Homo sapiens: one gene and its partners. The protein of the gene in region 4 interacts with the protein of the main gene of each other region in a pairwise test. Each region holds a gene or a part of one and is shown on either strand. Other genes may lie near its edges.

Region 1 (7,345 bases), on a different chromosome or scaffold from region 4:
TTGGGGAATTAAATGTTTTATCCACTGAAAAACTACACCATAAATGAATCTATAAACAGACAACTTCTAGGATTTGTTTTATTAAGGTAAGGATTCCTTCAAAATAAGGCATGCTATATCAGTTAGAACACTTACCTTCATTCCTTCTTCCCAACTAATCCACAGGTCCCCTCGTGTCAGGAAGCAAGCAACTGCATGCCTGGCTAGATGATGAATCCAACCCTCCTGACGAAGCTGTGTCATGATGGCATCAATCCATGGAAAGCCTGTCCGGCCTTCCGCCCATTTGGCTAAAGCCTCAGGATTTTTATCCCAAGGAATCTGAACACAGATAGGGTTTCCTTCCATTTTATCAAAGCGTGGATTATTTGTTGCTGCTGTATAGAAAAATTCACGCCATAACAGTTGCCCATAAAGGGAAAGGGGAGGGGAACTGTTCTTCTTTACCTATGGTTAAAAAGCAAAGAAGTATTATCAGAATTTTTTTTTAAAGTATTAAACAATAAGCTCTAATTTTAGAGAATACCTTTTTGTAGAGATCTGTTAGTTTGAAGTAAAACAGTCGACATGACAAACAACCAAATCGGAGATAAGGACTAAGTCCAGTAGGGCTTGCAAGCAGAGAATTCGCATTCATTCGAGGTCTTTCAAAATTTGCCACCCAAGCCTGAAAACACACAGAGAAAATTATATTAACTAATTGTCTTTTTCATTTTAAAAGAACACTCAGAATGGAGATTTTTTTTTTTAAAGTTACATAGTTCTTGGGGAATAAAATCTTATCCTAGCCACAAATTACATGTTTTAATAAAAAATAAGACAGGATAAAAAAGTGAGCATTCTTTTGTTTCAGTCGTCCTTGTGCAGCACATACTCATGTGAAATAAATTTCCTTCAAATTTCCAACAGAAAGCTGAGAGCACCTTCAATCTCTCTCTCTTTTTTTTTTTTCCTGAGACAGGGTCTCGCTCTGTCACCCAGGCTGGAGTGCAGTGGCTCAATCTCGGCTCACTGCAACCTCCAGCTCCCGGGTGGAGGATTCTCTTGCCTCAGCCTCCTGAGTAGCTGCGACTACAGGCATGCGCCACCACGCCCGGCTAATTTTTGTATTTTTAGTAGGGATGGGATTTCACCATGTTGGCCAGGCTGGTCTCAAACTCCTGACCCCAAATGATCTGCCCACCTCAGCCTCCCAAAGTGTTGGGATTACAGGTATGAGCCACCAGGCCTGGAAAATTTATTTATTTATTTTGAGATGGAGTCTCACTCCATCACCCAGGCTGGAGTACAGTGGTACGATCTTGGCTTACTGCGACTTCTGCCTCCTGGGTTCAAACAATTCTCATGCCTCAGCATCCCAAGTAGCTGGAATTAAAGGCACACACCACCACCCTGGCTAACTTTTGTATTTTTAGTAAAGATGGGGGTTTTGCCATGTTGGCCAGGCTGGTCTTGAACTCCTGACCTCAAGTGATCCACCTGCGTCAGCCTCCCAAAGTGCTGGGATTACAGGCGTAAGCCACCATGCCTGGCTTTCAACCTCTCTTTAACACAAAGGTAAAGGTGAAATATAATTCTATTCTAGTTTCGAAATTGTGGCCACTAGATACTAGCTTAGGTAGAAAGAACAGAAGAGGTAGTGCGGTAGTAGCTAAAGGGGAAATAATTAGAAGAGAAGGAGAAAGAGCATTTAAATGAGGAGATGGTAGTTAACTTTCAAACAATTAGGTTTGTGCTATTTTAACCATTTCTGTTAATCCTCCCCTTTCAACAATCTATTTGTTATTTTTAAAAGAGAGAAAAATTATTTTTTAAATGGCAGTTTGGAAATACAAGCATAGCTATATAATCTACATTATCATACTTTTCTTTCCAAATGCCTTTCCAAACGAGTAAGTGCTTCAGTTTCTCCACCTGGCCACACTGCAGAGGATAAGCCATCTGTATCAAAACCTACAAGAAAGAAAAGAAAAAAACATCATTCTTCCGAAACTAATTTTTATTTAACCCCAATAACTGGGAGAACAAATTACTTTGCAGAAAAATTAAGAGAGTACCATAAAAATGAACTGAAGGCCTAAATAAGCCCTCACCTATAGAGGATATGACATGGTTTCAATTTTTCAGGATGTACATCTTAAGGTGGTAACAATAGATCACATATTTATAAAACACATAAATGATGAACAAACATATCACTTCTTAAAGGGTTCTTTTTCTTCTCCCCCTGCCCTTTCTTTCTCTCCTAATGCAAAATACTTTACATGGCAAAATTAAAAGGGGAATTTTCTGAGTAATTTATGATTTATTAACTTGCAAGCCTCACACTGACTACAGTTTACACTCACCTAGCTCTTCCAGTGAAGGGACTCCATATTTCTCATCATGGTCATCAGACAGAGGAGTTGTGCACTTTTCTATCACTTCTGAAGTAATTGTCTCTACTGGTATCTCTAGTGGTTCCATTTTGCTGATGAGAGTCTGGAATCTTTTATAAGTTAGAGGCGGTTGTCCACCATTGAGTTCTATGATCCTATAACAAGAGTTAGTAAAATGTAGTTAGTATTAAAAAAGACAATACATTTTGGCTAATAAGCTCCCAAAAGGCTTAAAAAGCAGAAAATAAAATTAATCACTGAAGTCTTTGAGGGTGTTAGCTTGTTATAATGACCAAGAAATGTGTCCAAAATGATTAATGAGTCCAAAAATCATTCTCCTGAGCTTCTAGACATCCTCTGGGTATCAAATATACTACACAAATATACTACACAAATATTAAACCTTTAAGACAAAGAATATTAAAAACTTATGAGAGGAAAAAACAAGTAAGAGGGGAAATTAGTCTAAAGGCAATTACAAAAAGTTAATACACACAGACATATGAAAAACATGTTATGGCCCAGCTCAAAGAATCTCAATCATCAATAAAAACTAAACCAGGTTGATAATTATATGAAAGAGTAATCAGCAGGTCTCATTTAGGAAAAATAAATTTTATTGTATATATTTGAGTTTACAACACATTATGGGATACATGTAGATAGTAAAATGGTTACTATAGTGAAGCAGATTAACATATTTATAATCTCAGTTACTTTTTTGTATGTGTGTGACAAAAGCAGCTAAAATCTACTTATTTGATTAAAATTCCAAATAAAATACAATTTTATTAACTAAAATCCTTACTCTGTACACTAGACCTCTAGTGTTGTTCATCTTACATAACTTCTACTTTGTATCCTTGGACCTACATTCCTGATATGGTTTGGCTGTGCCCCCACCAAAATCTCATCTTGAGTTGTAACTCCCACAATTCCCACATCATGGGAGGGACCCTGTGGGAGGTAACTGAATCATGGGGGCAGGTCTTTCCCGTGCTGTTCTCATGATAGTGAGTAAGTCTCACAAGATCTGATGGTTTTTAAAAGGGGGAGTTACCCTGCACAAGATCCCTCCTTGCCTGCTGTCATCCATGTAAGACATGACTTGCTCCTCCTTGCCTTCCACCATGATTGTGAGGCCTTCTGAGCCGTGTGGAATTGTAAGTCCATTAAATCTTTCTTTTGTAAATTGCCCAGTCTCGGGTATGTCTTTATCAGCATCGTGAAAACAGACTAAAACAATTACCCTATTTCCTTCAGCAAATTTTATAAATTTTGATTCTATATTACTGTGGTGACAATTACTTCCTATTTTCTATTGTGCTAATGAAGGCATGAGAGATGTCAGCATATGTATCTATGTCACATACTTAGAACACATAAGCCCCCAAATTTCAAGTTATTTAAATTTAAGTATCTTTTTACTTCTGATCATTAATTAACTCAATCAATTATTAATTAAAAAAATAACTAGCTTTGCCAATGGTAGTTAAAGATTAAGTTTAGACACTCTTTTGGAATAACTACTCTTTTTCACTATGGCCATTTGCTTAGCATTTGGCCTTAATAAAAAATGACAGGTGAAATCCAACTCCATCATTTTATAGATGTGAAAACAGGCCTACCAGGAGAGTTAAGTAAACTAGTCAAGGTCATATAACTGATAAACGGCAAATCAAGGTTTTCTTAGTGTATTTTAGTGTATTTTTCATTATACAATACGTAGTGATGTATCAACTACAGATACATACAGAAAGTAATACAGAAAGCAATCACCATAAAAGATATCCTGTTTAAGTAAATTTTGTTTTGGTGTATTTTGAATTTATTCATAGGGTTGCAATGAATTTTGCTGAATGTAATGATGCTACAATAATACTACTGAGGACATTGTTAATTACACAACAGTAGCAAAATGAGAATCTTAGGACAAAACATTTTCTATATGTTACATTTTAATATGATAGATTACATATAGTAAATATTCACATTCAATCCAATAAACACTTGATTTTTTTTTTTTTTTTTGAGACAGAGTCTTGCTCTATTGCCCAGGCTGGAATGCAGTGGTGCTATCTTGGCTCACTGCAACGTCTGCCTCCCGGGTTCAAGTGATTCTCCTCCCTCAGCCTCCCAAGTAGCTGGATTACAGGCACCCGCCACTATGCCTGGCTAATTTTTGTATTTTTAGTAGAGATGAGGGTTTCACCATTTTGGCCAGGCTGGTCTTGAACTCCTGACCTCGTGATCCATCTGCCTCGGCCTCCCAAAGTGCTGGGATTACAGGTGTGAGCCATCGCGCCTAGCCTAAACAATTTTATGCATAACACTGAGTCTCCCACTTAGAAGCAACTGCTTTTATCCTGTGTTGCCCCCTCCTTGCTATGAGCTCCTTAAAGTTAAGCAAATTGGTGAGCTCGAAGGCAAGATTATTATTAAAAGATATATGAATTCTAGCTTAGTATCAAGACCTTTGTCTGAATCAAATCATGATTTTTTGATACATTTAAAATGTGAAATCAAATCAACTAGTTTGTCATGTTACAGAATTTGTTTTACTAACTTGATAAAATACATAAATTACTAAAAAAGTAAAATGATTTAAAAGGTAAATAAATTATAAGATTTCAGTACTTAAAAGGACAATGGTATGCCAAAAGTTTTAAAAAGTTAAGTTTTACAGACCTCTAAGACTCATAGCATATAACACTCCCTAAATTTAAGTTTGACCACAGAATTTCTGTGGGACAAAGCATCACCAAGGACTGGTGCTGGAAGAAATACACTTTGGGAAATATTCTATTATGCCATTGTTCAGAGGACTACAGCTATGCAATGTTATATTACATCCAATTTGCATCTGGATTTAAAATCCAGACAGACATAATAGATATACATGAAATAAGATAACATTAAACAAGCATACAAAATATGTCAAGGCAATTTATAACTATATATAACTATAAAATTGATAATGCTAAGAGCCCAGAAAGGCAAGACCACAGGAGGCTGAGTTAAGAGTAGTCAAGGAAAATTCTGTAATAGTCTTAATCCATAATAGTTTTGAAACTGAAATGCTGATACCTGTCATTGGGTCAATAGCAGCTAAATAAAATGCTAAGGATTTGACATATGTTCACTTAATTCTCCCATAACTCTGTGAAGTACATGTTATTTCTACTTTATAAACCTCAGTTAAAAACTTATCTATGTAGTTAATACCACCGAACTATATACTTAAAAATGGTTAAGATGGTAAATATTATGTTATACGCATTTTCCCACAGTAAAAAAAAAAAAAGGACTCACTTGTCTAGGTCATATAATGTATGTGAAATTCTTACAATGACTTCTACTCCAGCTTCAGTTGCCAGTTTCTTAATAGCTGCGTCTCGTTCCTTTCCAAAGGGCTCAGAATCATACTCAATTGAAAGTTTAGTAATGTTCCATTCCTAAAGTAAGAGAAAGGGGAACAATGTACACCAATTGTAATAGTTATTTTTTCTATTATAACGAAAAGTGAAAAAGCTGAAAATCTACATATCAAAGGATTATACATAAATCAAACTTTGAATATGCAGGAAAAAGTAAACAATTTATCAATTAAAAAATACATAAGTAATGAATGCATAACCCATTAGATTCTAGGCATTATGCTAGGCAACAATCTAGCAAAGCAATATGCTTAAAACCAGCTCTTATACTAAATGTGTTTGTAGAGCACTTTACTTTTTCAAATTACTCATACTTACATTATTTCATTTGAGCCTCAAAACAACACTCAGAGTTTGGCACTTTGGTTAGTATTTCCATTTTGGAGATAAGTTTATTTTTAAAACTTAGGGACCTGCCAGAGTTCACAGAAAGCCAGACCACCTGAATTTATGTCTGTTGAGTCTAAGAACTGGTCTTTAACTAACCTTTGATATTGATATGGTATAAGCTGCCTGGCTGAGGTCGTGTGTGTGTGTGTATGTAAATATTTTCTTTCTGATTACTAAAAAACGTTAACTGAAAAATTTGGAGATGGTAATAATAATAGCAGTTACTTATTATCAGGAGCTATGTTAATAAGTTCTGTACATCTCCTTATACTGATTTTAAATGAGGAAACTGTGACTTAAAGGAATTGATTTTTCTTAAGGAGAAAGTTTTTTTTTTATTCTAAGTCTATTCTGATTTATCTCATAAAGAAAAAATTCTACCATTATTTAACTGCCTATATGGTAACATACTATAATTCACCAAACACCTCCAGATTAGACAAGGGCTATTCCAATGGTGGGTTTAAAAAAATTGCTATTCTAGGCGGCGTGCGGTGGCTCATGCCTGTAATCCTAGCACTCTGGGAGGCTGGGGTGGGTGGATCACCTGAGGTCAGGAGTTCAAGACCAGCCTGGCCAGCATGGTGAAACCCCGTCTCTACTAAAAATAAAATCATTAGCTGGGTATGGTGGCACATGCTTGTAATTCCAGCTACTCGGGAGGCTGAGGAAGTAGAATCACTTGAACCCGGGAGGTGGAGGTTGCAGTGTGCCACTGCACTCCAGACTGAGCGACAGGAGCGAGGCTCCATCTCAAAAAAAAAAAATTGCTATTATAAACTTTACAGTATATATCTTTACCTTTATGCACACATCTTACAAATTATAGGGTATTTATCCAATTTTTTCCTAGAAATAATCCCTTGAAAAACAACTGATGGATCAAAGATAAGCACATTCAAAATTCTGATAGGCTGTCAAATTATGTACCAGAAAGACTGTACAAATTTATATTCCCATCAGCAGTGCACCTAAGGCTTGATCTCCACACACTTGCCAATAATATGTATTAGTAATCTTTTTTTTTTTTTTTTTTAGATGACATCTCACTTTGTCACCCAGGCTGAAGTGCAGTGGCTGAAGTGCAGTGGCATGATCTTGGCTCACTGCAACCTCCACCTCCCAGGTTCAAGCGATTCT
Region 2 (6,717 bases), on a different chromosome or scaffold from region 4:
GGGTTTTTCTGGTGGGTTTTTTTGTCTGTTTTTGAGACGAGGCCTCGCTCTGTCACCCACACTGGAGTGCAGAGGCGCAAATGCAGCTCACTGCAGCCTTGACCTCCTGGGCTCAAGCAATCCTCCCGCCTCAGCCTCCCGAGTAGCTGGGAACAGGAATGCACCACCATGCCCAGCTAAGTTTTTTGTAGAGAGGGGGTCTTGCCATGTTGCCCAGGCTGGTCTCAAACTCCTGGCCTCAAGCAATCCTCCTGCCTCTGCCTCCCAAAGTGCTGGGATTACAGGCATGAGCCACTGGGCCCAGCTGAAATGAGTTTTCTGTATCAATTGCAGACCTATGCTTCTGTGACTAAAGTTGATCAGTGGTAAATATGAAAAGAACTGGGTTTTCTAGCTGACTACAGATTTAATATCATCTAGCAACCTATGTGGCTGTTAACATAGCTGTTCTGTCTTTGGATGGTTTAAAATCATCTGACTCCCACACCACAGAGAAGAATCATTCTTGCCTTCCTCTCCAGTCAACAGCTCACAGCCATGGACTGCAGGACACTCCGCCTTGAGAACACTTTAAAATGGCCATTGCCCATCTGTAATGGCTTCCGTGCCACCAAGGTGATGAGGAATCCCAAAACTGTGACAGAGAAGCAGGTGAAGGAGCTGAGAACTGGAGCTCTCCCCCACCCCTCAGTGCCTGTATTAGTTGGGGCTCTCTAGAGGGACAGGACTCATAGAATAGATGAATCTATGAAGGGGAGTTTATTAGGAGAATTGACTCTCGATCACAAGGTGAGGTCCCACAATAGCTGAGGAGCAAGGAAGCCAGTCCAAGTCCCAGAACCTCGGCAAGTCTGCTCTTTCCAACTTCTGCCTGCTTTATTCTGGCTGTGATGGCAGCTGAAGAGATGGTGCCTACCCAGATTAAGGGCGGGTCGGCCTCCCCCAGCCCACTGACTCAAGTGTTCATCTCCTTTGGCAACACCCTCACAGACACACCCAGGATCAATACTTTGCATCCTTCAATTAAATTGACACTCAGTATTAACCTTGACAGCGCCCAAGGAGGGGAGGGCCAGACCCAGCGCACAGTTCCAGTTTCTGCCACGGAAACACTGACCATGTGTTGCTCTTAAGGTCGGAGCTCCAGGGCGGCGTTTCCCCGGGTTTCTGCGTTTATAAGTGATGTTAGTATCTGGTTTGCGTGTGCACAGGTGACATCTCAAAAGGATATGGTGGCTGTTTTCTGTCTTCATATAAGTTAGAAGCTTGCTTTCTCTCTCTCTGGAAAACTTGAGTAATGTGGAATGATCTATTCCCTGAAGGTTTGAGTATTCACCTAAGAATTGCCTTTGCTGAGCACATGAGGTGTGCTGTGTGCTTTTCCTAATTTATTATTATGAATCTGCCTTAGTGTTGTGTGCCTGAGGATTTTTCTGTGTTTCTGGGAACCATTTTGGTAACTGAGAGTTTTCTAGAAAGCCACCTGTTTGGTCCCTGTTTTCTCGTGGATTCGCACAGAGTAAAAGACAGTGCTCTTACCATTATTTCCATTTCCTTGTTCTGCCTGTAGCTATTTCTACTTTTACATTTCTGTTTATGCTTCCTTTTTCTGGATTAGTTTATACACTGTTTTTTGTCTTTTTCTTTGTGAGACAGGATCTTGCTCTGTCTGCCAGGCTGGAGTGCAGTGGCACAGGTATGATTCACTGCAGAACTCCTGGGCTCAAGAGATTCACCTGCCTTAGCCTCTCATGTAGCTGGGGACCACAGTGCTTACGGCCACACCTGGTGCTTACAGCCACACCTGGCTAATTTTCTTTTCTTTTTTAATGGAGACAAGGTCTCACTTTGTTGCCCGGTCTGGTCTTGAACTCCTGAAATTCAGCGATCCTCCCACCTCGGCCTCCCAAAGGGCTGAGATTACAGGTGTGAGCCACCATGCCCAGCCACTGTATTTCCTTTTTAATAGTGTCTTTTACTGATTTGTTTTCTACATATTCTGGAATACTTTTAATTGCATTTTTATGTTTAATTTTTTCAGTTGCTCCTAACTTTTAGAAATCGGTAGGATTTTGTATCCTAATTACATTTTAATAATTCTGAAAATGTCAAGTTACTTTCTAATCATCAGGAAAGTCAGTGGGTAGCAAAGAATATCCCAAGATTTCTCTGTTATCTTCCTCTGAGACATTGAGTAAAGTCCCATGCCAGCCTCAGGAGGCCTTGCAGTGCGGAGGATCAGCACACGGTCTGGGCGTTGGACAGCCTGGGTGTTGACCACAGTGTTCTGTGTTAGCTGTGTGACCTCAGAAAATTGTCTCATCTTTCCAAGCCCGACGACTTCATCTAGAAAGCGAAGCTAGCGACAGCATCTGCATCCCAGGCTGTCGCGAGGGTCAGGCGAGCTGTGCTTGTAAGCGCTTGCCACGGCCGCCGGCACACGTTAATCTTGATCGGTCTTGATGATGGGCTGTAATCATCTTCAGTTCAGTGTCTCACACGGTCCTGTTAGACAGGAGATGCAGGCGTTCGAGCTGAGGGCCGCGTCACGGAGCCCATGCTGCCTTCGGTTTCTTTTTAGTCCGCAAGTGGGAAATCGATAGTAGTGGACTTCAAACGGCTTCGGACTGTGCAGACGACGGGCAGCGATGGACAGATGCCATTCAGTGTGTGGTGTGTGTGCACGCCTGTGTTTTCTCTTGTTTCATTCTGTTTTTTCTTCCTCCTCGTATGGTATTTCTTTTGTGGGATAACAGCAACAGTTGTGAAGGGCCTGAGATGTTATCCTGTTTCCAAGCTGTGGAGTTAGCTGCCACTTTCATGGATGCTGGCAAAAAATGTAAGATTCCTACGTTAGAGAGGAAGGCTATTTATTACACAGCAACAGCAGTACAGCCAGAGTGGCATTCTTCCCACCAGCCACGGGGCCCTGATTCCTCAGGGTCTTCACCGAGGGCCTCATGAGGCCTGCAGTGGGCTGTGTGGCTGGAGAGGAATCCTGAACTTAGAACACCCAAATCCTTGCTACTGGGAGGCGAGCCTGCCTGCCCTTTGCCCCAGAGGGATGCAGTTTAGCTTACAAGGCTGTCCTCTAAACAGGCATCCTTGTGTAAATGCTTTGAACAAAGCCTTGTCACTGTCTGTGCTTGGAAGACATGCAGAAACATGACACCCATGGAGAACCATCTCCCCACCAGTCATCTGAGAAGTTAGCAGGCTTGTTTTAATGCTGGACAGATGCTTGGCGTGGACAGTCTAAGAGTTAACTAGGCTGCTCAGTATGATAGTGATGGGTGCCCCAGCCCTCCTCATGGAGGTGAGCCGCGCGCATTCAGCTTGTTTCTCATCGAGACAGAGGACAGCATTCTGTTAAGTTTCTGCTGCTGCCATGATAACAGAGCTCGCTGTCACATTCTGGCTCCCGCAGGCTGTGCCCCGGACACAAAGCAACTCTGTCTTTACCCTCGTGAGCGCGGCTTGGGCCATAATAGGACTTTTCTTTCATTTGTATCTATTTCTTATTGTAAGCCTTAGATCATTTATTCCCTTCCTTACACTTCTAGAGGTGAAAGAAAACCCAAGTCTGCCTTTGTAAAACCAAGCTGTGGCCTCAGGAGTCAGGGCTGGGGCACTCAGCCTTCCACCCCCCAGGCCTCCTCTGCCACAGGCCTGCTGCATCCGGCTGCATTTCAGTCGGGCAGCCGGTGGGTTTCCTGACATGCGTGATAAGAGTGGGTTTGAGTTTGGTTTGGCTTGTTTTTTACAGTTGAATTCTATATTATTTGGTCAAAATATTACTTTGCAATTTGCAAATGTGGTGGCACCTACCATTTTACTAGCCACAAGTAACTCATAAGTTGACGTAGGACCTGCTCATATTATACCAATATTTTAAGTATTTTATGTTTCATCTTATTAGTTATTCATTTTATTTTATCTAATGCTCTGCCAGAATTCATTCCAAAAGGTAAAAATTACTAAACTATAAGACTCTTAAATAAGGCGTGTATATTAGCAACTTAGTTTCTGACATATAGAACATTAACATTCCACTGTATCTTAAATGTCTTTTGCCTTTTTATTAAAAAATGATTAAATGGTTACTGAAGTTTTCCTCTGCCTGACATATAAATGTCTTCATATTCTAACATGATATTAGGGAACTAAATATATGAGTATAGACTTAATATTTCTTTTGTCAACTAAACTGACTAAATTTTGTCAAAGCAGATTGGAGACATAAAAACAGCTGAAAAGTATTTTCAAGACGTTGAGAAAGTAACACAGAAATTAGATGGACTACAGGGTAAAATCATGGTTTTGATGAACAGGTAAATATTTTAAAACTAAATATATGTTTTCTCAAATTTCCCAGAGGCGTTCAAGCCCCACTTACTGAGTTGGAAAGCTCCCTAGAGAAGGCGCTTCTCCCTGTATCTCCTCTTGCCCTGTGTCTCTCAGAGCGGAGACCCAAGGAGTATACAGGTGTTTTCTTGAATCGCAGTGATGTTCTTTTAGTCACAGAAGCTGATTTTTAAGGAGCTATTCCCCCTTGTTCTTCAGAGAAGCGCTTGTATTGCCCCCGTTTTCAGCGTATGTGTGTGTAAAGGTCACCATTGCTGGCGTAGCGGCCGTTCTGGATCCTGTGCTCTGGTGTTCTGTGTCTGGATCCCGTGCTCTGGTGTTCTGTGTCTGGATCCCGTGCTCTGGTGTTCTGTGGTAGAACGCACAGCGTCGTGCGAGTGCACGTTCGTGAGGAGGAAACACGCCTTGGACAAAGCCTGCAGCCAGGATCAGAAAGCGTAAATAAAGCAGGTGTCCGCTTTTAGCAGGAAGTCATTTAGGTGAAGTTACTCTATCTCAATTAACAAAAACTAGAGTGGCTTGGCCGGGTGCAGTGGCTCATGCCTGTAATCTCAGCACTTTGGGAAGCTGAGGCACGTAGATCACTTGAGGTCAGGAGTTTGAGGCCAGCCTGGCCAACATGGTGAAACCCCATCTCTACTAAAAATACAAAAAATTAGCCAGGCGTGGTGGCAGTCGCCTGTAATCCCAGCTACTTGGGAGGCTGAGGCAGGAGAGTTGCTTGAATCCAGGAGGCGGAGGTTGCGGTGAGCCGAGATCGTGCCACTGCACTACAGCCTGGGCAACGAGAGCAAAACTCCATCTAAAAAATAAAAATAAATAAAAACTAGAGTGGCTTTAATGTGCGAGCCTGAATGCAAAACGCAGCTCACCGCCTCTACCTGGAGATCAGGAACCCCGGGCCACACAGGGCCATACGCTGGGTCTCTGTGGGATCCAAAGCCCCTGTGGGTTGTGTTGGGGGACAGCAGCTCCTGGGCTTTCCCCGCTAACTGCCACCGTTGCTTGTGTTACAGCGCGTTCCTTCACCTCGGGCAGAATAACTTTGCAGAAGCCCACAGGTTCTTCACAGAGATCTTAAGGATGGATCCAAGAAACGCAGTGGTAAGATCCCCAAGCTGCAGGATCCTCCATCCTCTGCCTTTCACAGACGCTAGAAACATACACCCACACACGTCTCAGCAGGGGCCTGCGCTCTCTCTCTCCAGTCCACCAGCTCCAGGCAGTGGCTGTGGCCCTTAGGGGAAGTGACCCAACAGGGCCACCTAGGCTCTGCCCAGCAGCTCTGCACCACCCCCAGGCCCCTAACACGGCCCAGCACGCAGCCTGGAATGGGCGGGCGTCTGTCCTGGTTGTGTGGGCCAACCCTGGGCGTGTGCTCCTCCCTAGGCCAACAACAACGCTGCCGTGTGTCTGCTCTACCTGGGCAAGCTCAAGGACTCCCTGCGGCAGCTGGAGGCCATGGTCCAGCAGGACCCCAGGCACTACCTGCACGAGAGCGTGCTCTTCAACCTGACCACCATGTACGAGCTGGAGTCCTCACGGAGCATGCAGAAGAAACAGGCCCTGCTGGAGGCTGTCGCCGGCAAGGAGGGGGACAGCTTCAACACACAGTGCCTCAAGCTGGCCTAGCTGCCTCCAACACACTACGTCAGAAGGACCCGGGTCTTTGAAACTGTGTCTTGAAGCTAATGTATTAATGTGACATGGAGGAACTCAATAAAACTCCTGCTTCACTGGTGTCTGCTGCGTGTCTTCTTGGTCCCAAGCCACGGCCCAGCCCAGGACTTCCCCGCAGTTGGTCGGCGTTCAGCCACGCAGTCCCTGCAGCTGGGTCACTGTTCATGAATGCAAGGGGCAGGCGTGCTGGGAGGACACAGCTCGTAGACAGGAAATCTGGAGTCAGCCTCGGGGCCTCTGTTCTGGAGGCCAATCCTGCTTTGCTCGTTCCTTCTGGACATCCTCAGAGAAAAGCTGGGAGGTGTGGAGACCCTCTCGCCGTGCACCTGCACGTACAGGGAGATTTACAACAGGGAAGACACCCCCCACAGATCGCCGCTCATGCTCCTCTTGCCCTCCCCACACACCCAAAACTAAGTGCGTTGGTCTTACCCATCCGAGTCTCCTCCAGCCTGATGCCAGCCAAACGACCCCTGCCAGCCTGGCGGTGGAGGAGAGGCCATCACTGTTTCTCCCATAGTTTATACGTCCACGTGGAGAGTGAGCTGAGTGGAACAGGAAGCACGACGCATAATGAAGCACAGGAAGAGCGCGTAAAACGCAGGCAGGCAGGGGCTGGGGGTGGTTTTGAAGCCAGACACGTGTTTTCATGTGTTCTCTCATGCCTGAAAG
Region 3 (7,815 bases), on a different chromosome or scaffold from region 4:
TTCTCACCTTTGGATAGTGACCACCAACAATTCAGCTCATTTCCCACACCTATTTACTGAGCATCTATTCTGAACAAGGCCCCATCGAGATGAGATGCTGTGGGGAATATGAAATGTGACAGTCCCTGACCTCCCATCTTTGCTACAAATAGAACGAGGATCAGGAACATGCTAATCAGACACTTCTGTAAGCAAATAATGCACCAAGTACCCTATCCACTATTTAAATGTGAAACTCAATTAGATGCTTGCTATGATGCAGCCAATTAAACCGTTGGCATAAAGCAGCCAAGAATACTGAGTCACTGGGCTATTTTCAACACCTCGAAATCTGACCTCTCTTGGGAAAGAGTTGCACCGTGCATGGAATCAGCATGGGACAGTGTCGTGATCACACTGGGAGAACCGACGATTCATGTAAAGAACAAAACACATGCTTGTTTTAAAAATTAAGAAAGAAGACTTAGCCCTTTGGGTTCTTAAGATTCAAAAGCAAGACTCTGAAAAAATGAACATATAAAGATGGTTAAATTAAAAAGTATACGCATGCCTTATTATTTTATTCTGAAAAAATTAACTTTCAGTTTTTAATCTAATAAGTTGCAGTGTTGAGTGAGCTATAAAGATTACCAAGAGTTAAGAAAGATTGTTCAAAAAAATAGGGTGAATTCAACTTAAACATGGCACACATCAGGTTATATGTGTTATCTTTAACGATTTTCATCATTTGCATTATTAAACAGCCAGAAATTTTTTTAAAGGGCCCAAACTGTTTTAAGAGAACCAAATGAGCTTAAAAACAATTGTTGTTTTCTACATAAAGATCAATTCTTTAGTCATCATCTGAACACTCTCTCATCAGACCACTAATTAGTAAAGCCTCACTTGGTTATTTTTGGCGTGGTTAACTCTTTGGGGGTAACGTTTTATTAATAACATATTTCCTCTAGAACGTATTTCCTTCTTTCACCTCCACAGGAGCCCCTCTGGGAAGCAGTGAGAATAAAACCGATTCTACATTTACGCACAGTGGGACAGATCAGCAAATAAATAGAGGCATCGATTTCCAAGAAGAAAACGGCTAAAAGCAGCGCATTTACAATTCTTCTAAGCCATACTCCACATCTCTCTGTGAGATGGAAGATAATTACTGAACGTCTTTACTTTGCACACTTTATTTTTAACTAAATATTTAAGTAGACTGCTGAGAGATACCAATACTTCTACTGGTCCTGGTTTAGCGCTGTAATGAAACACTGAATTTTTGCTTTTATAAAATAGTGGCGCAGGTCAGGATAACTCTTTTAAACATTACACTATTTATTTGGGGGTTATTTTTGGCTAACTTTTTCCTTTAAGGACATCTTAGTGGCAGGAAGATGGAGCTAGTGTGTGCGCTTGAATGTGAACAGTGCCTCCCAAGGAGGGCAGCTCTGTGTTTAATGCAAGCCATAATTAGTTGGTCAATTCACTGATGGGGACCAAGCTACAGTGAGAGAGAGATGCTGGCAGAGATGTCTTGCTGGGAACTACTTTAGAACTAATTACCTGGGAAGTTCAAACAGGAAAAACCTTTCTATTAAGGAAAATAAGGTTTGGGTTCTAAATGATCAAGACGGTTTAGCTCGTCTCTGCTGATTAAGTTAATTTAATAAGTGATCAATGTTTTACCTGTAGGAAAACAGGCTAACCACTTTAATGAAGTTGGGGTGGATGCCAAAGCAACGCGTAAAGACGAAACTCCTCTCCGGGACCCTCCTGAACACCTGTTGAACTCCAGGGCTTCTAACTTTCCGTACTAAAGCCTCCCGGACACAAGCTCGGGAGTGTTTAGACTTTGTGGAAGTGCGTGCGTATATTCAAGGTTTCCATCTTGCTTAATCAACAAAACTAGTTACTAATTATTTATGAATCACAGGGCTGAAACAAACTTTCTTACCTTGAGCAATTAAGGAGTGGCAAGCAGAGGAGCGGGACTGGTTCTGAATTTAGCCGGGTGGTGCCTGTCCCTTCCCTGGTTACCGACCTGCCCAGCTCTTCAGAAAGGTCAAAGGTGCGTCCCTCCTCGGCTGGGAAAGGGGCACATCTCCCAACAAAACCATACGCATACATCCAACCTGGGGAGCTCCGGAGTTGGGGTGGGGGGGCGGCAGCGACGTGAGGAGCCAGGCTGCACGCTGTCTGCGCACACGGGGGTTGGGGGCACCGATTCCGCACCCAATCCGGCCCGGAACCAATTCCGACCCAGGGACTCCGAGAGACCGCGGGCCCAGGGCGCGCACGCCGCACTCTCCGGGGGTCCAGGACGCCCGACGTTTCGGAGGGTAGCGCGATGGGTCTCGAAGACAACCACGGGCAATCCCCAAAGCTGTTGCCCTGGGGCACGATCCTTCTCCACCCTGTCGGACACCCCGAGGACCCCCAAATTCCGAGGCTCGGATGCCCAGTCCTCTGTCTTCTGCGTCGAGACGCGCCCGGAGCCCACCGGCCCAGCGATTGCTACCTCCTGCAGGACGCGAAGCCCCCAGCGGCCTGACTGTGGAGGGGAACCCACCTCTCCGCGCCCCCGCGTCCGGGGTCCCCGGTGCCGCGCAGCCTCGCGCCTGAGCGCCCCTCCGCCCCCGCGCGTCCTCCACGCTGGCGAGCAGGTGACCGAGTCCTGCGACCCCGCGCGCACGTACTACCCACCCTGGGTCCCCCGCGCCCCTAGGCGCGGCCCCTTACCTCGGAGCGGGCCGGAGCGGCCCCGCGGGGCCGGGCGCGGACTGGGCCGGGGAGACGCGCCTCCCGCCGCCGCTGGGAGACGAGGCGGCGAGCGGGCGCGGCGAGCTCCTCCCGGGCGGCGGCGGGAGGCGCTGCTCTAGCTGCTGCCGCCGCCGCCGCCGCCGCCGCGGCTGCGGGTCTCCGGGCTCCGCGGCCGCCGCTCCTGGGCCGCAGCCGCGCGGGTCCCTCGGCTCCTGCGAGAGGCCGGCTGCTCGCGCGGCAAACTCTTCCGCACGCAGAGCCGGCGGGGAGAGCCGCCTCCGCCTCTGCCTCCTCCCCTGCCTCCTCCCTCCACCCTCCTCCCTCTCCACCTCCCCCTCCTACCCCCACCCTCCTCCTCCTCCCCTCGCCTGCCTCCGCCTGCGGGGTCTCTCCTGGCCCCGACCCAGCCTGGGACAAGCACCCCGCGCGCGCCGCAGGCAGACGGACCCCCGGCCCCCTAGACCCCCGGCTTCCCTGGGCGGCGCAGACACCCGCGAGTCCCCAGGCCGCCGCAGCCTCTGCTGGGCTGCCAGGGACGCGCGGCGGGGTCGGGCCTGGGGCGCAGGGTCGGGGTTGGGCGCCGGGGCTGGGGGAGGGGGGGGTTGTGCTTCCAGGTGAGCCGGCCCAGAGGAGAGGCAAGTGGACTAGAGGCTGCCAGCCGAGGTCCCATTAAAGTTGTCACTCGGGGGGAACAAGGAATCTGCCGCCCCCGCCTAGTGTAGACCCTCGCAGTGCGGGCCGCCACCCTGCTGTCCCGCGCAGGGGATGAAGGGGGACGAGCACGCGACTGTCACCCCCTCCACACTGTCCTCCAGGGGCAGGGTTGCGCGCAGGTCTCGACCCAGGGCACAAAGCGCGTCTCTGCGGGGACCACTGCGATTTCTCAATGAGCGGCGGGGGTGCGGCCCGGGGGCAGGTGGGAGGCGGGGGTCGGGGAAGATGCGGGCGAGCGGTGGTCGGCGGAGGACAGCAGCGACTGCTGGGGAGGAATAACCAGTGCCTGTCCTAAGGCGAACGTAGCTGGTCCGGAAAATGGGTCAAGGATGGAAAGGAACCGGCTAATTGCCCCCCTCCCCGGCAGGGGCACGTGGGGTGTGGGGCTGCGGCCAGGAGCGGGCACTTGGAGCTCCACTCTGCCTCTCCCTCCCCTCCTCCGCTGCCCTCCTCTCCTTTTGCACCAGTGCAGGAAATGTTCCACTGACCTACATATTTTTCCAAACATACGTGACCTTTTTTTTTTTTTCCTCTGTGGGAGGAGACAGGCGAGAATCCAAGAAAAAGAAGCTGGAGAGAGAGGCGCGCGCGAGAAACAGGGAGGATTTTACCAAGGTTCCCGCAAACGCCAAGCGGAGGGAGGCAGAGGTACAGGAATAATCCCCGGGTGCCGGGGCTGCTGTCTGATGCCCTTCGGGGCTCCAAGACAGAGCCGGTGAAAACCGGAGACCGTGTGCCCCGCCGAGGTCCGGAAACGTGGCCGGTTTCCCCTTCACCTGGGCGGCGGCGTTCACAGCGGGGAGGCGCCTGGGTGGAAGCCCGGGAGAGGGGAAAGGTCCCCCTGCCCGCTCCCACGAGGTCTCCGCTCCCCTGGCCTAGGTGCCTGGCCTGGCGCAGCGCTCCGAGCGTGGCAGCCTTTTCCGGACGTCTCTCCGTCCCTCTTACATTCCGGCAAGTGGCCCTGGAAGGAAAGCGCCCCCGCTGGCCCTTTTCTGTCATACTCGATTTTGTGGCCAGAAGGGGTCTCCTAGGGCCTTTGCCCCAAGCGCGCCAGGCCCCCGCGGTGGACTGGGGGTCGCCCCGGACGCTGTTCCTCTCGCTGTCTCGTCCTCTCCCTCGAGTTTGAGACGTGCCCTCTCCCTCGCAGATCCGACCAGCAGCGCCTTATTTGGGCATGCAACCCCACACCGTCAATTAGATCAAAACGCTCACACAGAGCTCCTTTTTACCCCCCCTGTAAAGTAGGTCATTCTCTTTATTTCCCACTTGTATTATTTGTGTCTAATTCTCCTCCTGAAAAATAATCAGCTGCAAGGAGCTTTGAGCATCCTAAGAGCAGCTGTTATTCTCAGGCTTGCTTCTGACTTGGAGGGCTTTTCAAGAAAGAGGAGGAGGCATTTGGCCTGTCATGATTTTGAAGTCCCTCCCTTTCCAAAAGAAGAAACTTTTGTTTGATGGATTTTATTTTGCTTTGTTTTTCTACCCCGTCCTTTTCCTCCAGGCAAGTAGGTTTCACCCCGCCTTTAGAGCGTGGCCATGACTAATATTACTAAAGGATGAAATTGTGTACTTCTAACCGGTTTTAAAGCATTATTTAAAGTCACCTCCCTTCCTTTTTTGCTTTGGAAGAGATTCCAACTCCCTTTTCCTACTCCCTTTTGGGAACTTGTTGAACAATCATTAAATTTTCTTTTAGGAAACCTGGAATGTCCTGTAGTAGTAACTCATCAAATAATTCTGCAGTACAAAAAGTGTTTTTGCTGTGGTCTCTTTTTCTCTGTTGTCCAGTAGATGCCCCTACTAAATGTGGTTTCTGCCTTTTTAGTCCTGGAGATGACGTGTATGTGGTTGTCGTATTTATTCCAAACTCCATCCCGTGTCCTAATGTTAATCTCACCCAGATGGGAAGGATACCTCTAAGATAGGCCACATATCCTATCTGACCATAAGGCAGAGTGGATTCTGCATCACAGAAGCCAGTTAGACTAGGCCCTTTCCCCCACATGCGGAAGAGAGCTACGGAGGAGAGTTGACCCCATGTTCATTCTATGCATTTGACGGTTGAGTTCCTTTTACTGACATCTGTTGAAGGCTTGCCATGAGTCAGGCTGGGCTTGGCCTGTGAGGGATCAAGGGAACATTAAGGCAGTTTCTATACACAAAGGGTTTACTATGTTGAGGCAGGCATAAACACCAGCCAAATAGGGCTAGGGTCAGAAAAGCCCTCCAAGCCAAAAGCAGATGTCCCATGGGTGCCGAGGAAGGACTCAGGATGAGCTTCTTGGAAGAGGTGACATTGGTGCTTGGATTTTTCGTTAACCAAATAACAAAGCCAAGCTACAATAGATCATCTATGCATTGTTCAAAATGTGCAGCATGGAGCAAAAGAGCCATTTCAAAACTGCATTGCCAGTTTTGGGACATTCTCACTGAGTTCCAGTCATTGGGCCTTTAAAAGAACATGGCTTTACTGATTGAATGTTGCCTTGATGTATTCAGGAACTCCAGATATTTTTCAAAGAATCCAAATGTATGGAAGGGAGGATAAAAAAATTTTTGCAGTCAATTTTATCAGTCTTTAGAGGTATCGGTGAAATAATTCAAAGTTCTCACAGTCAAATTGGATATTCTTTTCCATCATAGAAGTTGAATCTGTGGCATATCCTCATTTTAAATATGCACACATTAAATTTTCAAAATATGTATTGGGTGACTATGGGTGTTCATTCGTGGTATTACACAAGGGCAAGAATGTGTGGGCTGCTATACGAATTACAGCACTAGCCCAGGGCTTGGGACTCTTGTTGGATGTATACATTCAATGACTTCAGCATAAGCTTTGGAACAGACAATAAGAACAGGGTTCCATGCCAGATGTTAGCACAGTTTTTCTAGTTAATCACAAGGTGGGAAGGCCCTCTTTCTTCATGTGAATGTCCAGAAGCCCATTTGTGGATTCTTACCTCTGATTATCAGTTTTCACTTCAAAACTCAAAAGAAAAAACACAATACCACGCATCATTGGATAGAATAACATTATGCTAGAGAAGAAAATTGTAGCAACCAAGGCAAAGGGAAGTTGGGTCAGTATAAACGTGAAGAAGAGGCTTTAGAACCCAATAATTGGAGACTGACTCAGAGGCCAGGGCTTATGAAGAGTACCTTTGAAAGCAAGACTGAGGAACGCCTATCATGTGTTTCAAATATCAAGATTAGGCCGTGACAGTGGCTCATGTCTAATCCCCAGCACTTTGGGAGGCTGAGGTGGGCAAATTGCTTGAGCTCAGAAGTTCGAGACCAGCCTGGGCAACATGGTGAAACTCCGTCTCTCAAAAAAAAAAAAAAATTAATTAATTAATTAAAAAAAGAAACAATATCAAGGTTAGCACCTTGATGTGCTGTTTCTGCATAAGCTTCATAGAATAGAAGAGCGCAGGAGGCAGCAGGCTCTCGCCCTCCCGCCTGGGCCAGAGGATGCTACCAGGAGACAATCAAGGCCTTGTACAGCCTGCCTGGTAGGGTTAAGACTTAACTTGGTTTTTGTGCCTATTAGATCATGTGGTTGGCAAACTAAAGAATGAAGTAAGATTTCCTTACAAAGACCGTGTGGAGGAGCCAGGGAGGAAAACAGGGCTGGAGGAGTCTGGAGGTGACAAAGCCCTAAAGCCTTAGCACAAACATATACACAAATCTGAAAAAGAGGTGAGATTATTGCCAATACCGGCACTTGAGAATAATATTTCCTTATGCTTAAGCCCCGCTGAGGAAGTTCTTTCATGTACATTTTCTCTAACAATAAAGTGTGATTTTAGATCCTATCTACTTCTAAGAGGATTTTCATAAATAGACATTATTGTTTTGAGCAGCTTTTGACTCTAAATAACTGAGAGGAAATACAGAAAGGTCCCATACACCCCCCCTCCCATGTACAGCCTCCCCCACTATCAGCATCCCCTCCCTCAGTGCTAGGTTTGTTGTATACATTGACACATCATAATCACCTAGAGTCCATAGTTGACATGAGGGTTCACTCTTGGTGTGTTTGGTCAAATGTGTAATGACACAAATCCACCATTAAGGTATAATAGTATAATACAGAATAGCTCCACTGCCCTAAAAATCCTCTATTCTGTGCCTATTCATCCCTTCCTCCCCCCAACTACTGGCAGCCACTGATCTTTTTATTGTCTCCATAGTTTTACCTTCTCTGGAATGTCATAGAGTTGGAATCATATGGTGCGTACCTTTTCAAATTGGCTCCTTTCAGTTAGTAGTATGCATTTAAGGTTCCTTCATGTCTTTTGTGGCTTGATAGCACTTTTTTTTAAAAGCATTGAATACTATTCCATCATCTGG
Region 4 (7,345 bases):
TAAGCTCCTTCTCTTTCATATGGAAAGGAAGTCTCTCCCAAGACAGCTAGTAATAACTAGCTGATCTGCTTGGTTTCTAGTACTAATCCTGGGCAGCTCTTTGATTGAAAAAAAGTGAATGTTTTGTTAAGGTCCAGATCACTCTGATAGTTCACAGCTCTACTCCTGCATTCCTGTAAAGTAAAGGTACATCTATCCGCACTGAGAAGCTCCTTGAGCCATAAGAAAGTTAAGTCTTCTCAAGAATTCTCTTTAGCGCTGGGCTATTTTGGTTTAGCTTCTTTATTTAAGGCAGGATTTCTTAATCTAGGCACTACTAACATTTTGGATTGGATAATTCTTTGTTGGGTGGGGAGGAGGGAACTGTCCTGTTTACTGTAGGATGTTTAACAAGCAGCATCCCTGGTCTCTATCCACAGGATGTTTAAGTAGCAACCTCCCACCCAGTTGTGAAGACCAAAAATGTCTCCTGACATTGCAAAATATTGCCTGGGGGAAAAAATTTCCCTGGGTTGAGAACCACTGGTTTAACAGAGGAACTAGAAGGTGTTACTTGCCTGTGGATTTCCATGATTTCCTCAGCAATCATTCGGCCTATTTTTCCTGCCCCAGCCCGGGTTCCCCCTGGAATCCCTGGAACAGTGGGGTGGGTCCTCTTTGGGCCACCTACAACAAAGGAATCTGAGAGTAGGAAAGGGGAAAACTGAGGAAGAAATACTATTATGTATTAAAGTAAAACCAGTTTATCCCATGATCCATTTGCAGTTCAACATCAGAGTTGTGCCTTGAGGGACTTTAGGGCTACAGCTTGTCAGGAAAAGGCATTCCAGCAGGGAAAGGCTCAAGTTTCCTTCTAGGATCTGAGGCCAGTTTTTTCCCTTCATACAGCATCTAATTCTTTCCCTTCATGCACTGAAAAAAAACGTTTATTGAAGACCACTGTATGTGCCAGGGTTACAGAGACAAGTCCCTGCCCTCAAGGAGCTCACAGTTTAACAGGAAAACCAACAAGATGAACAATGGCTAAAGCAAAATGTTGTAAGTTTGACAGGCAAGCACGAGGCAACCAACTCATCTGGGGCCAGGTGCAGCTTCTGGAGCAAGTTAACCCCGAGCTGAGTCTTGAGAGATGAATATGAATTAGCTTGGCAGAGAGGTAAGGAGGAGAAAGCATTCCAGGCACAGCAACCAACACGTGCAGGAGCACTGAGGCAGGTTAAAACTTGGGAGACTCCTCCAAGGAATTCATCATAAATGATGATGAGAGCATGATAGATGAAACTGGGGCAGCAGGTACCAATCCGATCATGAGGGGCCTCTTGGATGCCGTACTAACGAATTTGGACAGTTTCCACAAGGGAATGAGGAGTACCAAAGGACGATACACAGAAAAGGCACAAATGAGAACTGGGTTATTAGAAAGTCCACGGCAGGGAGAATGAACTACAATGGAGGATGGGGTGGGGAGAGGGGGACTAGAGTTGCGAAGTGATTTGCAATAATCCAGGCAGCAGATGAGGAGGGTGAAATAGCAATAGTGGTGACGAAGTTTAAGAGATAGAAGGTTCAGGACTCCGTGTTTAGATATAATGGGGGAGAGACAACAGCCAGGTTTCTGGCTTAAACAACCAATCAGGTAGGGGAGTGCAGAAAATCAGCTTGGGATATTCTGAATTTCAGGTGCCTCTGAGACTCCAGGTGGTTCTGTCTATGAGGCATTTGGAGAGACAGATCTGGAGCTCGGGAGAGAGACTGGGCCAGGAGATGTGGATGTGGGAGTCATCGATGGGGGCTGCAGCCATGCATGTGGGGATGGTCCCAGGAAGGATGAGTCCAGCGTGGACAGCAGGGGCAGGGCCAAGGCTGAGCCTGAGAAGGGAGCCCAGTGGGTATGGTACACACCCTGGTGCCGAAAGACACCTGCCTGCCAACCACAGGAGTTAGTGACAGTCACGAAAGAGCACTTCACATCATGGCCACTAGCCAACACAGGAGGAAAGCACAAGGGGAGTAGGGAGTTTGCGAGCTCAAGGGCTTCCAGGGGCCAGCAGCTTTGGGAAGTGCAGCAGTGAGCTCCTAGTATTCCGGCTCAACAGAGAAAGTGACATGACAGTGTCCTCTGCATTCATGGGGAAATCCGCACATCATCCCCTCGAGGCCTCCCTTGTTCCACAGAATATGAATGGAGGGGACCCTGAATACTTTAGGGGAGGATATTTGACCACAAGCACCTTCCCACGGGCAAGCCCCAGGGCCCCAGCAGCACATAGTTACCTTCTCCAGAGGGCAGCATGCTGTCCATGCTGTGGGGGGATGCTGTGAGCTGTGGGAAGGTTGGGTCCCCGCCTTCCAGGACGTTGGCTCTGTGAACATCCCAGCAATAAGGAAACGTGAGTCAGGCCTGCTCAGAACTGTGCACCATTCAACTTGGCCAAGGTGTCCGGTGTCCACTCTGGACCTGGACAGGCCAGAAAATGAAGTGTCTGTCTGAGTGGGTAAACAGGTCTCACTGTTTGATAATATAATGGATAGCATCCTGGCCTTTGGCCCCACTGCCTGCCTAGGCCTTCCTAATATGTGTGGGACACAGTTCAGCAGAGGTGGTGGCTGCAGTAACCTACTGCCATCATTACAGCACCTCCTCCTGCCAGCCTGCAGTGCACCTAGCCCCGGCCCCTCACACAGCTCTTACCATAGGTGGGGTTTTGGACACTATGGGGAAGGAAAAGTGGGGAGCAGGCCTGGCCAAAGAGAGGCTCCTTCACCTCCCTCTGCTCATCTAGCAGGTAGCAGCCTTTTGAGATGGCATTCCAGCTGCCAGTGCTTGGGCCCCCTGCCTGACAGGTATGGAGACCTCCCCATCCTCAGCCAAGGCCAGTGTGAGCTAGTGCCTGAATGAGCCTTTCATAGATTGCCAACCCCTTCCTCCACAGCAGCACAAGTGGATGCCTAGGGTGCAGGGCCTGTGGAATTCAAAGGTTAGCTGCTTTATCTGGAAGGAAATGTTGCTATTTCCTGGAGCAGTTTCATAAGCCAGGGCCTGCATGGTACAAGTCCTGAAGCTTGTCCCTTTGTTAACAATCCTTTCTAGCTTCTGCCAGTCCTGAGGCTTCACAGGTATTAGCAAGATGGCATTAAAGGATGTGATACTGGATGTTGCCTGCACCCCATTTCCCAGATGAGGAACCCTAGGCATCTGTTTGAAGCAAGGGGAGCTTCAGATATAGGAAAAGTACTTACAAAACAACAGTGTTAGTTGAGACAATATATTCTACTTCCTTGGTCCAAGGGTTCATGAAACTGAACCATCGACTCCGTAGTGTGATAAAAGAACCATCTTTGATTTTAAATTTATAGCAATTAGTTGTAATTTTTTCTCTCGTCTGTAAAACTGAAAATGTAAAGAAAACATGGACATTGTTGTTTTCTCAGACCAAAGTATTAAACAGGACATCCAATACAAAATATTAAAGGTACTTGAGCTCCAACGACATCGCTCTTTAGTAAGCCAAGGAAACTGCAGTGGTCAACACTCAGGAAATAGGTTGTTTCTGAGGGTCTAACTCAGAGCCTTTCAATTCATTTGTGAAGCTGTCATGATTTTCCATAGTCTGTAAAATTGAGGCTCTAGGGAATTACTGACTGCATGTTATACATCTAACTGGAATCAGCTCTAACATGACCACCAGCAAATGAGAAGGCACTGTCCAAAATGTCATGCTTTATCTCAATCACAAAGCCCAAGGGCAATATAGAACTTATCTCATTTCTAAGAACATCCAAATCAACAGAGGCTACTCACCTATTCAACCTCATTCTTTCATGTAACATGTAATGAGCCCTTCTCATGTGCCAGGCACTGGAGATACAAGAGGAGACAGGCTATGACTCCTGCCCTCAAGAAGAGTAGTGAGGGAAGGCTATACAGGGAGAAGAGATCAGAGCCTTGAGGGATGAACACGAGTTTGCCAAGAGAAGGAGGGAGGGAAGAACCCAGCAGTGCCTGAGGAGCAGCAGGGTCTGGTTGGGGAGAGGCCAGTGAGGTCAGTGTGCCTGGAGCACAGGCCTCTGCAGGCAGGGATGGGGACTGAAACTGAGGAGGTGGGCTGGGGCCAGAAGGTGGAAGGTCTCACATTTGATTGCCTGTCAAAAGCATTTGGGCTTGAGTCTAAAGCAGGAGGTTTTTAAGCAGGCTGATGTTACCAGGCTCAATCTATCTGGGGATAAATAGGATAACTATGGAAGATGAACTGGGGGTGAGAGGGATCAGAGAAACCCTGAGAAGTCTATCACAGGTCTCTAAGTAGGCACGAGGGCCTGAACCAGGGTGATGGCAGAGGTGGTAAAAAGTAGACTTTTGGAAATGCATGTCTGAGGTGAATGAACAGGATCTGGTGGAGACACAGTGAAAGAAGGGGTCAATGTTGGTCTCTCTCAGGAGCCTGCACATGAAGCCACAGCATTAGTCAAGACAGAAAACACAGGAGGTAGTGCAGGCTTGAATGGAAAAGAGAATCAGATCAGTCTGGGCCATACTAAATCTTTACAGGGTCTGGGAAAACCCTCTGAACAAGAGATGTCTTTCAGAAACTGCCATGCAGTCAGCACAGGGCAACTACAAGGGGGATAAACAGTGCCTGCAGGTATCAGCTTCCTCTTCACACAGATGTTCTGACCTGAAGAGTCCTAGGCTGGCTGACTCTACATCCTCAGTGGACAGATTTCCCTGGAAGGTCATGTTGACTAGTCTAGAAGCAAGGGGACACTTTCAACTTAAGATCTTTCATACATCCTAGCTTACCTTGCCTATGACATTCTGCAAGATGTCCTATGTCATCTTGGTGAAAATATTCATAACACGATGTGCCTAGAAGTTCTTGTGGTAAATATGCCAAAATAGCTGTTGCCCTAAAAGGGAATAAAGGAATATTTAAAGAAGAAAAAGCCATTCAGATGATTAATTGCAACTTTGCAATGGATAAACCCTGCTACAGCCTATGAGAGCAAGGTCAAAGCTGCAGGCAAAAGAGCTGGATGGATTTTCAGAGGGCTCACTGTGTGGATCTTTCTCTCTTTTTTTCAGGCATCTGAATTTAATCAAGGCTATAAAAATAGAGGGAAACAGAGCAAAGCCTTTGTAAAGGGACTATTATCACAAGAAATCAAATCTGAGGGGGCTTTAAAAATTGCAACCAGTCGGGCATGGTGGTTCATGCCTGTCATCCCAGCACTTTGGGAGGCCGAGTTGGGCAGATTGTCTGAGCTCAGGAATTCAAGATTAGCTTGGGCAACATGGTGAAACCCTGTCTTTACCAAAAACACAGAACAATGAGCTGGGTATGGTGGCACATGCCTATGGTCACAGCTACCTGGGAGGCTGAGGTGGGAGGACTGCTTGAGCCCGGGAGGTCAAGGCTACAGTAAGCCAAGATCTCGCCACTGCACTAGATCTAGCCTGGGTGACAGACTGAGATCTGTCTTTAAAAAAGGAACCACATTAATTAGATTAAAATGTGGTATAAATCTAAACCTCAGTGCAAGGCTTCTAGTTTTTGCTGCCTCCTTTTTATCAGGACAACCAAATGCCAGAAGCTGCAGCAGCTGAGGCCACAAGACAGCTGAGGCTGTCTCTTTTTCCAGCATGTTGTGGCTGTCTCTAGTAGCCAGAAAAATTATTAGCCTGTGCATATTCTGAGGGAAAGCAGTAGGCAGCAGTAAATTTGGGACACCTGGGTCCTTGGTCCAGGTCTATTACCAATTAATTGTGAATCCTACAGGAGACCAGTCCCCAGGCTGGCCTCTGTTCTTCATCCATAAAATAAGGAGGTTGGATTAGATCAACGCTGTCCAACAAGACTTTCTGTGATGATGGAAATGTTCTATGTCTGTGCCGTTAGCCACATGGGAGGCTACCATGGCCAACGAGTATTTTATTGGACAGCTCAGGACTAAATAATTGCTTCCAAGTCCTAGATTCAAAAGAATTTCAATCACAATAATGGTTCTGGAACATTCCATAGATTCAGACAGCATGCTATCCCTACTGTTTTTCTTTTAGCCATGGACATCAAGGCACCCCACTTAATTGTCTCTATATGCCAAAGAATGACAGAAAAATCTCTGTATTTATGATGATATCCTATTGAATCTCATTTTTTAACAGAGACTCTCATCATTTGTCTCTTTTTTTTTGAAACAGGGTCTCACTCTGTTGCCCAGGCGGAAGTGCAGTGGTGCAATCACAGCTCACTGCAGCCTTGACCTCCCGAGGCTCAGCTGATCCTCCTGCTTCAGCCTCCAGAGTAGATGGGACTACAGGTATGTGTCACCATGCCTGGCTAATTTTTGTATTTTTAGTTGAGACAGGGTTTTGCCACGTTGCCCAGGCTAGTCTCAAACTCCTGGGCTCAAGTGATCCACCCACCTTGGCCTCAAAAAGTGCTGGGATTTGAGGTGTGAGCCACTGCACCCAGCTTTTTCTTTCTTTCTTCATTCTTAGAAAAGCCAGCTGATGGCCCAGTCTTCTCTGCTTTTTAGATCAGGGTTGAAAATCCTCTACCATCATTGCTCAAGGGTAGTATGTAGACTCTTACCTCTGGTCTACAAAAACAAACTTTCCATCTATCGCGTGCCGAGAAACATATTCCATAGATTTCACCCTGATTTCCCCGTTCACTGGTTGTGGAACTACATGAGAATGCAGTCGTCCAATTGCGACGAGGCAGCTGAGGTTACACCCCTCATTGTCTGGTTCGTTGTCTTCATCCAGCCCCATCTTTGTGGGTGGCCAGCTTTTCAAATAGCCTGTGCTGTGGATTGTGCAGAAGCTTTTTCGATCTGCTAGAAAGCAAAGTTCGTGGTTAGTGTCAGCACTAGGTTTGGGCCATGGAGGTGTACACGGCCGATGGTGGGATGGGATGTAGGTAGGGAGTCAAAAAATAAAAAAAAATCAAGGCTTCACTCTCCAGAAGTAAGCATCTAATGAAAGGGGCAGACGGAAAGAGAAACAAACTGTCATCCAGTGTCAGAATGCTTAAGTAGGGCCAGTTATACCATGGACATTCATTACATACACCAAGGAAGGAATATCTAACTCTTCCTAGGGAGAGGAAGGCTCCCCCAAAAAACCAGTAGAGGAGGTGGATCAAGAAGGATGAGCAGTGGCTGAGGGACTAGAATGTATAAAGGCTGATGACGTACACAGGCACAGAGGCACAGCCTATATAGGAACTGGCCAAGAGCTCTGTGTGGTTGAAGTGAAATTGGAGGTACTGGGAGTGAGGGGCAAATTGGAAAGGCAGGTTGGAGGAAGATTAAAAGGGCCTTGGATTACTTTCTAACCAAT

Evidence for each region.
Region 1: the proteins of BMAL1 (region 4) and CRY1 interact in a two-hybrid assay, tested with the Homo sapiens proteins (3 studies listed by BioGRID, with this or other methods).
Region 2: the proteins of BMAL1 (region 4) and TRAPPC12 interact in binary tests that used the Homo sapiens proteins (3 or more experiments, as listed by UniProt).
Region 3: the proteins of BMAL1 (region 4) and NPAS2 interact in binary tests that used the Homo sapiens proteins (3 or more experiments, as listed by UniProt).

What each region holds. Positions count from the first base shown.
Region 1 is NC_000012.12:106,999,416-107,006,760, forward strand, and holds part of CRY1 (cryptochrome-1), read right to left. Parts: intron 5,834-7,345; coding exon 5,691-5,833; intron 2,534-5,690; coding exon 2,349-2,533; intron 1,954-2,348; coding exon 1,865-1,953; intron 668-1,864; coding exon 527-667; intron 448-526; coding exon 136-447; intron 1-135.
Region 2 is NC_000002.12:3,473,465-3,480,181, forward strand, and holds the end of TRAPPC12 (trafficking protein particle complex subunit 12), read left to right. Parts: intron 1-4,230; coding exon 4,231-4,331; intron 4,332-5,128; exon of another isoform or gene 5,129-5,381; coding exon 5,382-5,469; exon of another isoform or gene 5,470-5,754; coding exon 5,755-5,997; 3' UTR 5,998-6,101; downstream 6,102-6,717. UniProt on the Homo sapiens protein: Component of the TRAPP complex, which is involved in endoplasmic reticulum to Golgi apparatus trafficking at a very early stage.
Region 3 is NC_000002.12:100,815,324-100,823,138, reverse strand, and holds the start of NPAS2 (neuronal PAS domain-containing protein 2), read right to left. Parts: upstream 3,001-7,815; 5' UTR 2,725-3,000; intron 1,985-2,724; exon of another isoform or gene 1,940-1,984; intron 1-1,939. UniProt on the Homo sapiens protein: Transcriptional activator which forms a core component of the circadian clock.
Region 4 is NC_000011.10:13,371,658-13,379,002, reverse strand, and holds part of BMAL1 (basic helix-loop-helix ARNT-like protein 1), read right to left. Parts: intron 6,841-7,345; coding exon 6,594-6,840; intron 4,909-6,593; coding exon 4,802-4,908; intron 3,392-4,801; coding exon 3,241-3,391; intron 2,459-3,240; coding exon of another isoform or gene 2,364-2,458; coding exon 2,275-2,363; intron 682-2,274; coding exon of another isoform or gene 667-681; coding exon 558-666; intron 1-557. UniProt on the Homo sapiens protein: Transcriptional activator which forms a core component of the circadian clock.